Linked DNA regions of Homo sapiens: region 2 is linked to region 1. Evidence: fine-mapped expression QTL. A gene starts in region 1. The other region holds a variant in brackets. All regions are shown on one strand. Distances are from middle to middle. Region 1 holds the start of ZNF778 (zinc finger protein 778). Region 2 holds the start of LOC124903757 (keratin-associated protein 5-2-like).

Evidence for each region. PIP is the estimated chance that this variant, and not a neighbour inherited with it, causes the effect. A credible set is the group of variants that fine-mapping cannot tell apart.
Region 2: its variant is the best candidate, but not a certain one, in a credible set for the expression of ZNF778 in prefrontal cortex (ROSMAP, PIP 0.85).

What each region holds. Positions count from the first base shown.
Region 1 is chr16:89,213,312-89,222,953 of GRCh38, reverse strand. It overlaps ZNF778 (zinc finger protein 778), which reads right to left and starts at 5,251. Exons shown (of 7, transcript NM_001201407.2): 1 at 5,044-5,251; 2 at 1,802-1,957; 3 at 771-862. The coding sequence starts at 1,826. ZNF778-DT (ZNF778 divergent transcript) reads left to right here and starts at 5,301. Exons shown (of 1, transcript NR_186410.1): 1 at 5,301-7,794. RefSeq lists enhancers at 3,835-4,364, 4,365-4,895, 5,420-5,469, 6,419-6,713.
Region 2 is chr16:89,291,062-89,299,061 of GRCh38, reverse strand. It overlaps ANKRD11 (ankyrin repeat domain containing 11), which reads left to right. Exons shown (of 13, transcript NM_013275.6): 5 at 7,879-8,000. It overlaps LOC124903757 (keratin-associated protein 5-2-like), which reads right to left and starts at 2,934. Exons shown (of 2, transcript XM_047435030.1): 1 at 2,298-2,934; 2 at 1-1,871. It overlaps LOC105371414 (a long non-coding RNA gene), which reads right to left and starts at 2,934. Exons shown (of 3, transcript NR_136339.1): 1 at 2,298-2,934; 2 at 1,100-1,871; 3 at 745-911. RefSeq lists enhancers at 2,821-3,666, 3,667-4,513, 4,514-5,359, 7,053-7,899. The variant G/A (reference allele first, on the strand shown) is at 3,619.

The DNA of each region.
Region 1 (9,642 bases):
CAGTCACGCGTGCCCTGTCGCGCTCCTCCAGTCACGCGCACCCTGTCGCTCTCCTCCAGTCACACGGCCGCAACGACACCTCTAACATGTGAGCTTCTCTCACCACGCTCACTGGGCACTCCCCTCGCCTTATGTCCCTCTCCTGAGCACACTACAAACAAGTGGTAACTCGTGATGTGGAAATAAGTTCCCAGAGAGGATACCTTCCCCTTCCTTACCATGTGTCAGAGCACTAAGCAAAGTACGAAACACGCATTTGGCACAAGGGTGAAAATAATGAGTAATGTTGTGGCTGGGCGCAGTGGTGCAAGCCTGTAATCCCAGCCCTTTGGGAGGCCAAAGCGGGTGGATCACTTGAGATCAGCAGTTCAAGACCAGCCTGGCCAACATGGCAAAACCCCGTCTCTACTAAAAATACAAAAATTAGCCAGGCATGCTGGTGGGCACTTGTAATCCCAGCTACTTGGGAGGCTGAGGCAGGAGAATTGCTTGAACCTGGGAGGCGGAGATTGCAGTGAGCCGAGATTGGGCCATTGCTCTCCAGCCTGGGCGACAAAGCGAGACTCCGTCTCAAAAAAAAAAAGTAACACTGAAATACGGGGAGGATTTTCACAGTAACACCTGACCAGCCAGGCTCTTCTCCCTGGAGGCGTTCAACTAGGGACTCGGTCCTTGAGTGAGGCTGTGCAGACAAGTCTGCTCAGACAGAAACTTGTCTATCTGCTGAATACCAGTATGTTATTTTAAGAAAAAATACAGTTTTGGCATACCTGGTAACAATTTATCAGCCAGCCAGCCACCATCCCTGCTGCCTGTGTCTGTTCTTCATGAAGGCAGACTGAGTCCCTAGAAACATGACCTCCTAAAAAACAAAGAAGGCAAGAAGGCATGAGAACCCAGAGCTGACCCTAATTCCACACTCATGGACCCGGAAGTCATTCCATCCTAGCAGGAAATTATCACGTACTCCTGCACACTCAGGAAAACGCACACACACAGATATACAGTGTCAGGGAATTCCCACATACACCTGCACACTCAGGAAAACACACACACAAAGCCATACAGTACCTCAGGAAAACACACACACACACACAGCCATACACTTCCTCAAGAAAACACACACACACACAGCCATACACTGCCTGAGGAACACACACACACACACACAGTCATACAGAGCGAGGGAATTCCCATGTACTCTTGCACACTCAGGAAAAGACACACACAGCCATACAGTGCCTCAGGAAAACACACACATACAGCCATAAACTGCCTCAGGAAAATACACACACACACAGCCATACAATGCCTCAGGAAAATATAGTCCCTCAGGAAAATACACACACACACACACACACACACACACAGCCATACAGTGCCTCAGGAAAACACACACACAGAGCCATACAGTGCCTCAGGAAAACACACACAGACACACACACAGCCATACAGTGCCAGGGTAGTCTGTTTCGCCTGGTGACACAAAATGTTTGTGAGCTATGCCGCCCATCAGGAAATGGTAACAGGCTCCTATTGCAGATATGGAACGGTACGCCTTGAGGAACGTGACTCTTCATTTGCCCGTGGTGAGAAAACTCATGAAGGAGTTTACACATCATCCCTCCCCAAAGCACACACCCTGGGGCTGACTTACAGGTCAGCATTCTCTGGCTCACTCCAGCAGCTGCAATAGGAACCCGGAGCGTGACTACTCAGGCCCCGTCCATGGGCCTGATACACACACTGTGTATCAGGACCTAGAGCAGAGGCTCTGAGAAGGAGCCCCACCAGGACTTACCGTGGGCCAGGTCAGGGGCTGCCATCCTGGGAGGCTGACGGAAGCGTCTGAATGCTCCTTTCCTGAAGCCAAGGCCACTGCAGGGCAGCTTGTGAATCTATGTGGAAGGTACAGTCTCCATTCCTCCTGACCCACGGATGGCTGGATCCCTATTTCCTAGCAATCATGATGAAGAAGCATTACTTCCCAGTTATCAAACCTCACGCATTAGCTTGTTTCTGCAGATGATATATGTGAAAGCCACTATATCCACTTTACTCTCTTGAGGACTAGTAATATCCACGTCACCTACTGAAGAGCAGTATATGGGTCAAAAGACACAACAGAAGCCTTTAATTATCAGAACAGCCATTCACAGATTTCACCCGTGTTCATACCTAAAACAGCCTGGATTCAGATAACATGAACTGGTCCACATCATCCACTTAGGAAGTGGTGAACCAGGACGGTTAGCTGGTACATGTTCGACCATCTCGTCACAGGTTTTGTTTGCTTTTGAGATGGAGTCTTGCTGTCACCCAGGCTGGAGTGTAGTGGCGCAATCTCGGCTCACTGCAACCTCTGCCTCCCAGGTTCAAGCAATTCTTCCACCTCAGCCTACCAAGTAGCTGAGACTACAGGCGAGTGCCACCACACCCAGCTAATTTTTTTGTATTTTTAGTAGAGGTGGGGTTTCACCATGTTAGCCAGGATGGTCTTGATCTCCTGACCTCGTGATCCGCCCACCTCGGCCTCCCAAAGTGTTGAGATTACAGGCGTGAGCCACCGTGCCCCGCCCCGGTCTCGTCAGTTTGTACTCCTGAGTCTGCGGTCACTCCCCAGCAGGACAAAGGTAGGTCTAGAGCTGTACTTTCTTATTCTACCGATGAGGTGACTAAAACAGTAAAGTTTCACATGTCAGAAAAACATGTCCATTCTCCTTGTATAAACTGTACTTACTACTAGGTGTCGGCGGGGGCGAGGTCTTTGGGCTAAAAGACCCACAAATGTGTTGACTTTGTTGTCACCTGCACAGGCTCTTTTCCCTCCTTCAAAAAGGGATGTAATATTCAGTTCTCCACCTTAACATCATCCCCAGAGGACCTGACCCTCAGACTGCACTCATACACTATGTTGACATGAGGCTGGTTGGATACAGTGAACAGAAAATGAACACATTTTAGATAACTTCATATGAAATATACACAACAGAGAGCTTGTGATTCAGGGGCCATAGTTTCTACGAGTTCAGCAGTCTGGATTACATAAAGACATCCCCTCCGATATGCACCTCCAAGTTACTGCACCTCATGACACCTATAACCAAAAAAGAGGCACAACACTCTGCAGATCTTTTAATTTTAGGGGCAACGTATATAACAGCGTTAACGCTCTACACAGTTGCCTGTAAGGCTGCCAGTGCCAAGTGTGGATCAGTGCACATTCAGGGTGCAGGACAAGCTTCTTAGGCACTTGGTGGAAAGGACCCAGCAGACCCACTGACACAGCGTCCATGGTAAACAGGATGCCGCTGGATGCCTCTGGCAAGCACTGATAAGACTCAGAGCACAACCCTCTGGGATTTCAGAGTAAATCTACACCCTCTAAACGGTCATCTATGCAGCTGACCACTTACCTTTTCAGAAATAGGCTGGGGCTTGGAACCAGGACAGAGTAGAGAAGGAACAGCTAACATGGGACATGAGGTGACTAAGGCTGAACTCAGCCATCTGAGACCTCGTGGACCCAAAGGCATAAGGTGCTTACTATCCGCCCTTTGCCAACCTCTCCTCTGAATTCAATTACAAGTTCATAGGAAGCAGCAAGAAATGGAGGAATATTTAAACGTATCACGAGAAAACAACACCAAAGTCAATATGATAGAGAAACCACAGGGGTTGTTCTAGGTGAAAAGACATAAACGATGGGAACAGATAAACCTTGAAGGGCTCTTAGTCCCCAAAATACCCAACAGCGCAATGTTGGAAAAATGTTGAGAATCCTAGATATTACACAAAGTAGACAGTGGATGACCTCCTTCTTATTTTTTTATTTTTTTATTTTTTTGAGACGGAGTCTTGCTCTGTCGCCCAGGCTGGAGTGCAATGGCACGATCTTGGCTCACCGCAACCTGTGCCACCCAGGTTCAAGCGATTCTCCTGCCTCAGCCTCCCGACTAGCTGGGATTACAGGCATGCGCCACCATGCAAGGCTAATTTTGTACTTTTAGTAGAGACGGGATTTCTCCATGTTAGTCAGGCTGGTCTTGAACTCCCGACCTCAGATGATCCACCCGCCTCGGCCTCCCAAAGTGCTAGGATTACAGGCGTGAGCCACTGTGCCCAGCGGACCTTATTATTTTTAATTATTATTATTATTTTTTGAGACGGAGTCTCGCTCTGTCGCCCAGGCTGGAGTGCAGTGGCGCCATCTCGGCTCACTGCAAGCTCCGCCTCCCGGGTTCACGCCATTCTCCTGCCTCAGCCTCCAGAGTAGCTGGGACTACAGGAGCCCGCCACCACGCCCGGCTAATTTTTTGTATTTTTAGTAGAGATGGGGTTTCACCGTGTTAGCCAGGATGGTGTCGGTCTCCTGACCTCGTGATCCACCCGCCTCGGCCTCCCAAAGTGCTGGGATTACAGGCGTGAGCCACCGCGCCCGGCCTAATTTTAATTTTCTTAGATGAAATACTAATATTGTGGTTTCAGTAGGATAATGTCCTTACCCTTAACAGACGCTTTACCAAGTATTTAAAGGTTAAGTATCATGTGTGCAGTTTAATTTCAACTTACTTACACTCAAATAATAATTCACCGTAAGGTTTATTTATTGGGGGAGAGAGAAAACATGGCCCAAAGCTAAAAAGGAGTAAAACGATTGCAGTGGATATTCCTTGTAGCAGATGTTCACATTTTTATTAGATTCAGATTTTCTAAAGCAAAACGTGAGAAAAAATACAGTTAGTCGAAACACACTGTTCACCGTGGATTCGATTACTCCAAGACCAGCGGGACAACGGCCGCATCCCTCCCGCCCCGAGGGCCGGGCCTGGAAGTCCCGGCGGCGAGGGACGCGCGCTCCCGCTGGCCCCCACGGGCTAACTTTCACAGGGAGCTGCACGCCCGGGGCGCTCAGGGGTCTACCTTACGCTTCGGTCCCAACACAATGTGCCAGAAACAAATAAAAAACGTCAAAGCCGAAGCCAGATTCTCACAGAAACACGCCCTGTTCAAAGTGAAGGAAGCAAAGGGCCCCTCTCTCACCAGCTCCGCGGAATGGAAGCGCTGCCCGGGTCTACCGCGAGCGGCGGCGACTTTCCCTTCTGGAAGCGGTGCCGGGGGCGCAAGGCGCGAGGCAGGCGGGCGGGCGCCCACTCCCGGACCAGCTTCCCCGCGGACAGCCCGAGGACACGCGCGGAACTCTCCGGCGCCAGCACGCACCGCCGCAAGAACCGGATCAGCTGTAAGACAGGCGGAGGCGGGGCCGGCGCCGGAAGAGGGGCCGGCGCGTCTTTGGCGTCACTTCCGCCTCCAGCCTCCGGGCCGAAGCTTTGGCCTATGGTGCGGGGAGGTAGTAGTTTCTTCCGCGAGGGTGCGGGAGGGCCCCGGGGCGCCCTTGGGAACCGGGCTGGAGGCAGAGACAGGCCCGGAGGACCAGGCGGACGTAAGGATCAGGCCTCTGGACGCAACTGCGGAGCCGGAACAGACCAGGAGGGCGCGGTTGGGCGGGTACAGCCAGGAAGTGCTCGTCGCGAGCGCGGCCCGCGGTTCGGTCACAGCGAGAAGCCCGCGGGTGCTGGGAGTGCTCGGTCTTCTCTCGATCTCTGCAGGGAGTCACTGGCCCCGTTCCTTTTTATCTGTCTGAACATCACGCCGAACTTTTAACAGTTGATTCCACTGCATTTTCAATGTGGTATTTTTTTTTTCTGTAAATGTTCATCTATTTTTCGCTTCAAATATGCGTTTCTGTTACTTTTCTAATGTACCGTAGGAGCCAAGACCACCTATACTACGTTGCAAAATAGCACTGATACCAGGGGTTCTCCCAAGGTTCATTCAGAAATGTCACATGATTCCAGTAACAATACGAAAAGGTTTTTTTTTTGGAACCAGGCATATTGATCCTGGAGTTCACATGGAGGAACAAATGTCTCATAACGCAGACGACGCGGACAAACAAAAGCGCAATGCCCGACAGATGCGAAAACAGCCTCTGTCATTAAAACTGTGTGCTAGTGACACATGAACAGGAAACAAATGGAATATCCAGACATCAACCCAGTAACATGGAAATTTGGTTCATAAACATAATTTCAGAGCGGTGGAACAAACATGCAGTTTATAATGAAAGGTGCTAAGACAAATGGTTAGCCGTCTGAGAAATGATGAAATTAATTCTGGATCTCACAGGGATAAACTCCAAACGGATCAGGAGTCTAAATGTGAAAAACAAAACAAAACCACATGTGAAGTGTTCACGTGATTTCGTGGCTGATTAAGAAACAAGATGTGCCCAGGAGGTGGCGGTGGCGCACAAGCTTTGACAGGTTGGAGGGTGAGGGAGTCTCACGCACCATGAGATTACCCACAGGCTTCGAATTGGGGGTCACTACTCAGAAAAGAGAAAAAAATGAGCGTGGGCGGGGGGCGCGCAGAGAACTCCCAGAGAAGAAGGAGATCAGACAGGGGGAGGGCTGACGTGACTAGATCACGTTTCTCAGCAGCCTGACAGGTGTCTGAGTCACAAAGCTCTGAAGGGCAGCAACGGCTTGCAGTCTTTAGAGCCCCAGGATTTATCTTATCTATGGCTAGCAGAGATTGGACACAATTTCACGAAGTATACAAAGCAACCACATGCTAAATGGTTCAACACTATGAGTGTTTGGGATGTGTTTTATTTATTATTTATTAATTTTGATACGGAGTCTCCCTCTGTCGTCCAGGCTGGAGTGCAGTGGCACGATCTTGGCTCACTGCAACCTCCGCCTCCCAGGTTCCAGCTATTCTCCTGCCTCAGCCTCCCAAGTAGCTGGGATTACAGGTGCCCACCTTGTAATTTTTAGTAGAGACGGAGTTTCACCATGTTGGCCAGGCTGGTCTCAAACTTCTCACTTCAGGTGATCCACCCGCCTCGGCCTCCCAAAGTGGTGGGATTACAGACGTGAGCCACTGCAGCCACCGTGCCTGCCCTTGGGATATGTTTTTTTTTCTTTTAATTTTGTTTTGTTTTGTTTTTTTGAGACGAAGTCTTGCTCTGTCGACCAGGCTGGAGTGCAGGGGCACAATCTTGGCTCACCGCAACCTCCGCCTCCCAGGTTCAAGCGATTCTCCTGCCTCAGCCTCCAGAGTAGCTGGGATTACAGGCACGTGCCACCAAGCCCAGCTAATTTTTGTATTTTTAGTAGAGATGGGGTTTCACCATGTTAGCCAGGATGGTATCTATCTCTTGACCTCGTGATCCTCCTGCCTCAGCCTCCCAGACTGCTGAGATTACAGGCGTGAGCCACCGCACGGATATGTTTTAAGTAACTGAATGTATTAAAATTTGACTTTGGCACCAGCAGGCTATTGTGAATAATGTTGCTTTGAGCATCGTGTGCAAAAATATCCTGGACCCTTGTTCTCAGCACTTTTGGATATATATGCAAAAGTGGAATGGCTGGGTCACATGATAATTCTGTCTGATGTTTTGAGAAACCACTGTCCTGTTTTCCAGAGCTGCTGCACCATTTTGTATTCCCATGAGCAGGTGCACAAGGTTCCAACTTTACCACATCCAGCCAACAGTTACCTCCTATTTAATGGCTAAGAGCCATCACCACCGGGGTAATGTGATCTCACTGTGGCTTTTGTTTTCATTTCCCTAATGTTTAGTTATGTTGATCATCTTTTCATGTTCTTATTGGCCATCTGTTATCTTCTTTATTATAAGTCCTTTTCTGAATTAAATTGGTTTTGTTGTTATTCTTGAGTTATAGGAGTTCTTAATAAACTGAATATTAATCCTTAAGCAAACACAAGATTTGCAAATATTTCCTCCCATTCTGTGGGTTTCCTTTTCACTCTCATGATTGTCCTTGGATGCACAAAATTTGTAATATTGATGTAGTCCAATTCATCTAGTTTTCTTCAGTTGCCTGTGTGGGTGATTTCATAACCAAGAAATCATTTCCAATTCCAGTGCCATGAAGTTTTTTCTCTATGTTTTCTTCTAAGAGTTTTATACATTAGCGCTTACATTTAGGTTTTTGATTCATTTTGAATTAATTTTTATATGTGGTATAAAGTAAGGGTCCAGCTCCACTGTTCTGCATGTAGATATCCAGTTTTCTCCAGCACCATTTCTCCCCCAGGCTCTATTGAGGTACAACTGACAGATTTAAAAAAATCATATATACTTAAGATGTGCAATGTGATGATTTGATGTATGCACACACTGTGAAATGACCATGATCAAACAGATCTACACATCCATCCCCTCAGCTAGGCACCTTCTTTTGAGTGTGTGGTGAAAATAGTTAAGATCTACTATCTTAGCAAATTCCAATCATCATACAATATAGTAGTATTAACTAAAATCTCCATGCTATACATTACATCCCAGATCTTACTCATCCTTTAACTTAAAGTTTGTACCATTTGACCAACATCTCCCCATTCCTTCCACCAACCCCATCCTCTGGCACGCAACATTGTACTCTCTGCTTCTAGGAGTTCAGCTTGTTTGGATTCCATGTGAGGTTACATAGGATTTCCTTTCTTTTTTTTTAAAAAAAGGCTAAATAATCGTGTGTGTGTGTATGTGTGTGTTTGTGTCATAGTTTTGTTTTGTTTTTAGAGATAAGATCTCACTCTGTTGCTCAGGCTGGAGAGAGTGCAATGGCACAGTCATGGCTCACTGCAGCCTTGAACTCCTGGGCTCAATCATCCTCCTGCCTCAGGATCCTGAGTAGCTGGGACTACAGGCATGCACCACCACACCTGGCCTTCTTTTTCAAGATTGGTTTAGCTAATTGAACTCCACTGAGATTCCATATGTGCACTTTATTTCTTTTTTGTTATTGTTGTTGTTTGAGACAGAATCTCGCTCTGTCACCCAGGCTGGAGTGCAGTGGTGCAATCTCGGCTCACTGCAAGCTCCGCCTCCCAGGTTCACGCCATTCTCCTGCCTCAGCCTCCGGAGTAGCTGGGACTACAGGCGCCCACCACCATGCCCGGCTAATTTTTTTGTATTTTTAGTAGATACGGGGTTTCACTGTGTTAGCCAGGATGGTCTCGATCTCCTGACCTTGTGATCTGCCCATCTCGGCCTCCCAAAGTACTGGGATTATAGGCGTGAGCCACTGCGCCCGGCCCTCATTTTTTAATTTATGTTTTTTGAGATGGAGTCTCACTCGGTTGCCCAGGCTGGAGTGCAGTGGCGCCACCTTGGCTCACTACAATGTCCACCTCCCAGGTTCAAGCAATTGTCCTGCCTCAGCCATGCCAGTAGCTCAGATTACAAGCGCGTGATACCATGCCTCGCTAACTTTTGTATTATTAGTAGACACAGGGTTTCGCCATGTTGGCGAGGCTGTACTCCTGACCTCAAGTGATCCTCCTACCTTGGCCTCCCGAAGGGCTGGGGTGTAGGAGTGAGCCGCCGCACCCTGCCTGTGCGTGGTATTTTAAAGCTAATTTTGGAAGTACTTTAACCTCACTTCTGTCATATTCTGCTGGTCACAGAGACCAACCCTACTATGATATAAGAGGACTACACAGAGGTATAAATCTCAGGAAGCAGGAATCACTGGGGCACATCATCCTCCTGGAACAGAGAAGAATTTGGCAACATCCAACAAAACTACAGGTGCAATCCAGCAA
Region 2 (8,000 bases), 77 kb before region 1:
CCAGTGGGTGCTGGCACGTGAGCAGCCCCCGGGGAGTCAGAGTGGGGCTGCAGCGAAGGCCGTGGTGGTCGAGGTGAGGGTGGTGGCCAGGTCTTGTTGCCGCAGTGAGGATTCTGGGGTTACCCTAAGAGCCACCACATTCAGGCACTCAAGAAAAAGCACGTCAAAATAAAATATTTTCACATGATTAAGAACTCCGCGTGATTGGTCTCTGGTCCTCCTATTTCTCAACCATTTTTCCTCTCTAGACGTAAGCAGTTTCTCATACAAAGGGAAGCTTGGACTAGCAAAGGGAAGGTTCTTGCTGTTTAAAATTCTGTAATCCCCAAGCCGCAGCAAAGGCTTCCCTGACACCCCTCAGAAGTGCACTTAGGCCGGTAGCCAGGCCCATGTTGTCAACACAACACAGACAAGCTGGGGTCCACAAGACCACCCGAGGCTCAGCGATTTGATGGAGGACCCCGGGACTCAGGATAAAGGTGGTGGCTGCCGTGGGAGCAGTCAGCCAAGTGAGGGGGGCGGGCAGGGGCCGTCTGCTACCTCCTGGCTCCATGCTGTGGGACTTTGGGCCCATTTCTCAGCCTGTCTGTGCCTCTCAGCCCTTTCATCCATAAAGCTCTGCTGTGTGAGGAGCTGTGGCCCCTCGACAGAGGGGTCCCCCCAGCCCTGTGCTCTCACCGCCCATGCATTCGGCCAGGCAGGCCTGTGCCCTGCAGGAGTGACGGACACAGCTCAGGCCTCAGCGCAGGTTTGGACGTTGATCTTGTTTATTTTAAAATACCCACGATGCTGTGTGTGTGGAAAGGAGGCCCAGGGTGGGAAACCGTTCTGTTTGGTTGTCATCTGAGCCCTTTTGCCGACATTGCTTCCTTCCTTCCTGGCTTCTTGTTCACCATGGTGACCGCTGGATGCTGGTGAAACCACCATGGGGCTCAGGCCCTGCTCCTTCCCACCCTTGCCACATAACCCTGTTTGCCTCCACAGGCTTCCTGTGGAACTGGTCCTTCCGCCCCACCCCACCCTACCCCTACCCCACCCCGGCCTGGAGATGGGGAAGGCATGGAGGTTGTGCAGGCAAGGGCTGGACGCACAGCCTTACCTCTGTGTGACCCCTTCACATACACTGCGGAAGAAGCCAAAGCTGAAAGGCGTAAGAGATGACCCAGCTCCCATCGGCAGGCGGGAGGGCTGAGGTCACGCAGCAGACAGGGGTAGGCCCTGTCTTTCTTTAAGTGATCAATGACGGTAACTGACAGAAAGAAGGCAGAAAGAGAGAGAAACCTGGAGATTGGAAGGAGAAGCCAGTCTCACCACAAGATGGCTCACAGTGCTCAGCGGGCGCCCGCCAGCTTCTCTTGTTGGCCCAGGACAGGCTGTTCGGAGCTTGTCTTGCTGCCCCAAGGAGGATGTCAGTGGGAATATGGTTGCGCCCTCGTTTGGAGTTGTGCGAGCGTTGAGCTCAGTGCCCGGGTAGGAACTTGGCGTTGTGGACCATCCGCCTCGTGTAGATCGGCTGTGATTTAGACTTCTTGGCCAGAAGTGCTGTATTTCATGGCTTTGAACATCCGGATGAGGCCAGATGTTTGGTGTGGACAGCATGGTTTTTAGTCAAATGGAAGAGAATCTGTGAGCAGCAGCCGTGCTACAAAGCTGCACCCGGCCCTGCCCATCAGTTCCATGAGCTGTAACCGCCATCGGCCGTGAACTTTCTGTTGTTTGAAAATATCGCCATGGAAACATCCCTTTGTGGAGCAGAATCAAGAATGTATTTTGACGTCTTCGAGTTTTACGGTGGGACGCAGGAGTTGCACATTTTCCTATGTTGACAGTATCGTGGCCTGTGTCTCCTAAAAGACTCTTGCTAGAAAAGCCTAGAAATTAGAGGTGCTAAATGATTGATACAAAAGGCATTTGTTCAGATGAGCAGCTGAGGCCACACACCTCCACGTCCCTGGGGCCCAACCTCAGGGTCTCTGCCTTGGAGCCCAGCTTCAGACCTCCCAGGGAGGTAGAGGAAGGGGCTTTGGGCCCAGACCCCACGGAAAGCTTGTCCCCTCGAGAGGGCCACACTTCCTGGACACTGGGCTATCAGGGTAGACACTGTCCCCCCAGCTAAGAGGGACAGGTGCTGAGGAGGGATGAGGGGCTTTGAGAGGTCACCAATGAGACTTCTGACCCATTCCTGCCCTCTGGTGGGGCTGGCATTTGGATTTGTGCTGTTTTATGCTGCTGGAAGTGCCCCACACTCCCTGGGGCCCCCACCACAGCAAAAGCAAACCCTCCCTGGAGAGACACACCTTCCTCATCCCGGCCTTCCGGCTCCCAGAGTGTAGACAGACGAAGAGCCTGGTTGGAATTACAAGACGTTGAGGAAGAAAGCTGTTCTGAGAGGGTCAGCAGGGGTCAGCCCCAGGGACCTCACGTGCTGGGATGGTTAAATGCACAGTATTCATCAGGGGAGTTAAAACCATGGAGTATCATGCAGATGTTTTTAAGGCATATGGAATATCTGGAAATGAAAACTATAATCACTGAAATAAAAAACCCAGTGAGCAGATGATGTAGCTTATTAGACACAACATAAGAAAGTATTGGTGAATTGGAAGTTCTAACAAAAGAGATTGCCTAGACTCTGGAGCACAGAAAGAAAGTGAGACAGGAAGCCTGCAGGAAGCGGGGAGCTGTGGAGGAGAGAATGCAGCTTAACAGGCACCTCGGCAGAGGAGAGAGCAGGGCAGGGAGACGGTGGCTCCAGAGGCCGGCAGCAGAGGGCTTTTCAAGGTTCATAAAAACACAAGCCTCAAATTCAAAAAGTATAATGAATTATAAGCAGGAGAAAGAGCAGTAATTACACATTTAAATATGACTCTGACGTGAAGTTTTCAGAACAGCAAAGGGAGGATGTTAAAAGCAGCCAGAGGCACACCCACCTGTGGTCCCAGCTACTCCTGAGGCTGAAGTGGGAGGGTCGCTTGAGCCTGGGAGGTGGAGGCTGCGGTGAGCTGAGATTGCGCCACTGTGCTCCATCCTTGGCTACAGAGCAAGACCTTGTCTCAAAAAAAAAAAAAAAAAAAAAGGCAGCCAGATAGAGAAGACACTCCCTGCAGAGCACCCCCAGGCGGTTCACAGCCCCCCCCAATCCCACCTGCACAGAGCACCCCCAGGAAGGTTGCAGGCCCCCCACATCACATCCCACCTGCACAGAGCACCCCAAGGAAGGTCGCATCCCCCCTCCGATCCCACCTGCACAGAGCACCCCTCGGGAAGGTCACAGCCCCCGCTCCGATCCCACCAGCACAGGGCACCCCCAGGCGCGTCACATCCCCCCCATCCCACCTGCACAGAGCCAGGTGCCACCGCCGTTTGCCTCGGGACGCTCGCCTCCAGTCTCTGCTGCCTCAGAAAGGCCATGGCTGGATGCAGGGGCAGGAAGTGGGCTCCAGCTCCCAAAAGCATTGTCCACTGTGGCCCCTGCTGCCCCAGGCCAAGGCCGTGCTCCAGCAGCACCAGCACCAGGAAGGGGCATGGGGCTCATGGAGGGGTCTCAGCTCTGTGCTGAGGAGGAGAGGGTTCCGTGGAATCTTCCACTGGCCAGCTGGGTAGTGAGGTGTGCTGCCA[G/A]CCTCAGAGGGCTGGCGAGGTGGATGTGGTTTGAAGAAAGGCCCTACGGGCCTTGTTTCTTAAAGATGAGGTGGGTGGCCGCCCAGGCTCAGGTCAGCGGACACAGGTGCCACCGCCAACATGCTTGACTTGGGAAGACACAGCCTCTCCTGGCACCCTCCACCGCTCTCCCTGGACCTCTGCCCTCAGCCCCAGGCTGCCTGAGCCCACAAAGCCCTCAGAGCCTGCAGGCCGTGTTCCGACTGCAGGGCAGGGGTGGAAGGGGGCTTCTGAGTGCTGTGGAGTGGCTCCCACCCCCACCCCGGGGTCAGAGGCACCCAGGGCCACATCTGTCTGTGGTGCTGTAGCCGCACTTAGTCCCTAGACTTGCCAGTTTTCCACTTTGCAACTTGGTGAATACCATTTGGAATTCATAGAAATTGTATTTGGCTTCCATTTGGACGGTAGAAACAGGAAATTTGCAGAATGCTACAGGAACTTGCTGGCTGTCCTAGGGGTAGCTCCAGATGCTCTCACCCTTTTCTTACCTGCAGACAACACCCCGCGCCTCCTGCGCTCTGCACTGTGTGGAGGGCAGGGAGCAGGTTTTGCAGCCTCTCCTCTCAGAGGAGCGTTTCTCAGGGGCACACGGCTCCAGGTCATCCCAGGCCTGGGGTAGGAGGGGCAGGCAGGCAGGCAGTGCGGGACCCACTTGTGTGGTGCCTGACAGTGCAGGTACAGGTACGGGCTGTGTGTGTGCACGTCAAGGACCCGCTCAGCTGCTCTCAGACCATGGTGTCGCTGGGTTGGAATGGAGAGCAGGCATTGTTGAGCCATGGGCTGTGGCACATGGGGGTCTCGCTCCGTGGGTGGGGCTTTCCCTCTACCCCAGAAGCCACTGGAGTGGCCAGTGTCTCAGAGCTGACAGACGTGCAAGTTTGCTGGGCTCCGGAGCTTGGGTGGTGTCTGGCGCGTGTTGTGGGCGTTGTAGATGCTCGTAGCTGCAGGTGCTTGTTTCACAGTGGAGAGATTGGCATCCTGGGAGATCTGGTTTCATATTGGACTTTTTTGGTGTCAGGACAAGTAAAAAGTCCTGTTTCAGGACAGGGAGAGCTGGGTGAAAAGTTGCTGCTTCCTGGGAGCAAGCTTTTCCTGAGTGTGGGGCAGAGCAAGGTCCCTGTGGTGGCTCCAGGCACCAGAATTCACCAGGAGGTTGGCAGCACCTTCCATGCGAATTGCTGGGAGCCAGCCCTGTAAAGCTGTCCTGGCCGCGTAAGGGAAGCCAACTCAGGCTTTCTTCACCAAAGCTCAGAGCAGAAGCAGAGGGAGGGCCTGGTGGGGAGCGGGAGGGATGTGGCCCTGACCCTGAGGCTCAGGCCCTGGAGCCCACCCAGGAAGTCTCTGGGGGCACCGAGTCCTGCCCATTCTGCACATGTTGGGTGTGAGCTGCACCTGAGATGGCCGCCCTGCAGGAGTGGGACATGTTCTGTTTGCCACAAAGCAGCTCTTTGCTGCCCCTCAGAGCGGGGACGCAGCGTGGGCTCCTGGCCTGCCAGCCTAAAGACTGACTTCTAAGGAACGCCTTTGCCTCTGCCTGTTCCTCTGACACACGCCTCCTAGGGTCCTTTGATAACTTAAGAGCATGGCAACGCCTGCACTTCGGGATGTAAACATACTGCAGCCCCAACACCGCCCCAGCTCCTCCCAACACCGCCCCAGCTCCTCCCTCCGCAGCCCCACCTCTGCCCCAGCTCCTCCCTCCGCAGCCCCAACTCTGCCCCAGCTCCTCCCTCTGCAGCCCCAATACCACCCCGCCTCCTCCCCTCCGCAGCCCCAACACCGCCCCAGCTCCTCCCTCCGCAGCCCCAACTCTGCCCCAGCTCCTCCCTCCGCAGCCCCAATACCGCCCCAGCTCCTCCCTCCGCAGCCCCAACACCACCCCGCCTCCTCGCTCTGCAGCCCCAACTCTGCCCCAGCTCCTCCCTCCGCAGCCACAACTCTGCCCCAGCTCCTCCCTCCGCAACCCCAACTCTGCCCCAGCTCCTCCCTCCGCAACCCCAACTCTGCCCCAGCTCCTCCCTGTGTCCACCCCTAGTGGCCACATGCAGCACAGAAGTGGGGCCCACTCGCTTTTCACTTCTGATGGTCAATGGAATAAGGAGATGCCGTCTGCTCCCAGGAGTCTCCTGTGCTGTGTGCAGCTTTGCAAAGTCTGTGTATCTCGGGGATTCTGCTTTCCTCGTGTTCTCAGGGGGCTTCGTGTCTCCAAAACATTAACCCCCCTGCTCTGGGTGACGGAGGGAGCAGGCCTCTGAATGTGCGTGGCTAGGTCTTGGGGATCAGGGCCCTGCAGAGGTTCTCAGCTGCTTCTCCAGGCGACTGTGGGCAGACCAGCTGCTCGGTGAGTGTGGGCCCCTCCTGGAGAGAGGAGGACTTGAGGGCTATCGGTGGGGGAGCTGGGGTTTCTCCAGCAGCTTCGTCGCCTCTTTCCTAGAGGGAGGCAGCCGCAGGCCTGCTTCTGTTGTTTAGAGGTGGCTATGAGAAGCAAGCCTGGGGAGGGCCGGCCCCCGGGCAGCATGGAGGGTGCAGGGAAAGCATGGGGCGCACGCAGAGACCCACAGCCAAGCGCCTGTGACCCAAGCTCACTGCTAAGGTGTGGCTACGCCAATGATGGCTGTAGGCTGGGGCTCATTGGCCGGTGGCGAGGCTGCCTCCCCAACCACCGTGTTTGCCAGGTTCTATGAGGGGCTGGGGCCAAAGCTCAAGTGCTTTCTCAGATCTGTGCGTTGAGGACTGTTTACAGACTAGCTGGTGGTGGCGATGGCAGCCTGCAGTACTTGGGGTTTTGCCCATGAGTGTGACGCAGGTCGATGTGGCCAGGTGTGTGCCTTCCTGCAGGCTTGTCCCATAGGACATACGAATCCACATTCTCAGCATGCCCCAGACCGAATTCCTAAGAAATCAGCCTCAGATACCTTGGAAAGAACTAGAGTGGGTGGGCAGCGTCCTCTTAGGAAATCGACGGGCACATTCACGGGGACCATGGTGGTGAACAGCAAGAGAGTCGGGCCCTGGGAGCTGAGCTGAGAGACTAGTTAAGACCGTTCTGTGTTCCAGTGACCGGGCAGGTGTGGGATCCAGTTAGTCCGTTGTTAGAGATGTCTCCCACCTCTGTAGGATCAAACACCAGCCGAGGGAGAAGTCCTGAAGAGAGGCTTCTTGGGAGTGCTGAATGGAAGGGAAGGGAGGTGCCTCAGAGGAGAGCTTCAGAGGCCCACGTCTTCCTGGTGGCCCTTCTTCCCCGAGTCAGGCCTTGGCAGAGCCTTGCCTCTGCGCTGCACCTCTGCAGTTTCACCCCATGACCTAGAAAACCCCAGAACCCGCAGGGCAGCTGGAGGAGGATTCAGAGGTGTCTGGCCCCTGATTTCCATCCACAGGAGGGCACTGGTCAGGCAGAGGAGGAGGCATCTTCTGTGCCCCCGACTCTTGGTGCTTGGGGTCTTCTCTTCCCCGCCCCTGCCTCCTGCCTCTTTTAAAAGACACAGCACGTGAGTTGCGTTAGACGCCAGCCGAGTGTTCTGTAACGGGTCAGATGAGTGCAGGGTGTGCTTGTTACGAGGAGGCTGAGGTGGAAACAGCCGAGCTCTCACACCGTGTCTTGTTAGTGCTCTGTGTTGATGCCTTCAGATGCCTCCAGCCCAGTCCCTGTTGTGGTGCTGCAAGGCTGGTACGCTCCTCGAAGCACCATGGCATGAGATGGAGGTTCCTAGAAGCAAGAAGAAAGGTACAGTACTGACCAGTTGGCCTTGATTTACTGATGTGTTTTAAACTGTGTCTGCCATTTTATATCTGCACTGTTTGGAGGAGGGACGGGGAAGGTGGAATTGAATTACAGACACGTGTATTGAACAGAGACCTGTCCTGTGTGAGCCAGGTCACCGGTGCTAAGCTGTCCCACCGCATTCATGTGTGGTACGAGGTCTGGGGAGGCCCAGGAGAGGTGCCTGGAGTGAGTGGATGCTCGGTGGAGGCCCAGGCTTAGCAGACTTGAGGGGCTGGTAACGAGGTGTTTAAATGGTCTCACAGTCACTGCTGAGAGGTGAGGTGGGCGGCACCAATGCTCCCAGCACCGCTGTGCTTTCCCCATACACAGACCTTCCTTTCTGCTCTGTCAGCTGTCAGGTGGACGCAGGGGGCTCCGTAACATTAGGTAAGGACCTAGCTTTGGAGGACACCATGGCATGAAATCTCTCCTCCCTCTCTCCCTCGCCCGCCTCACAGAGAAGCAGGGCCCTGAGCGGAAGAGGATTAAGAAGGAGCCTGTCACCCGGAAGGCCGGGCTGCTGTTTGGCATGGGGCTGTCTGGAATCCGAGCCGGCTACCCCCTCTCCGAGCGCCAGCAG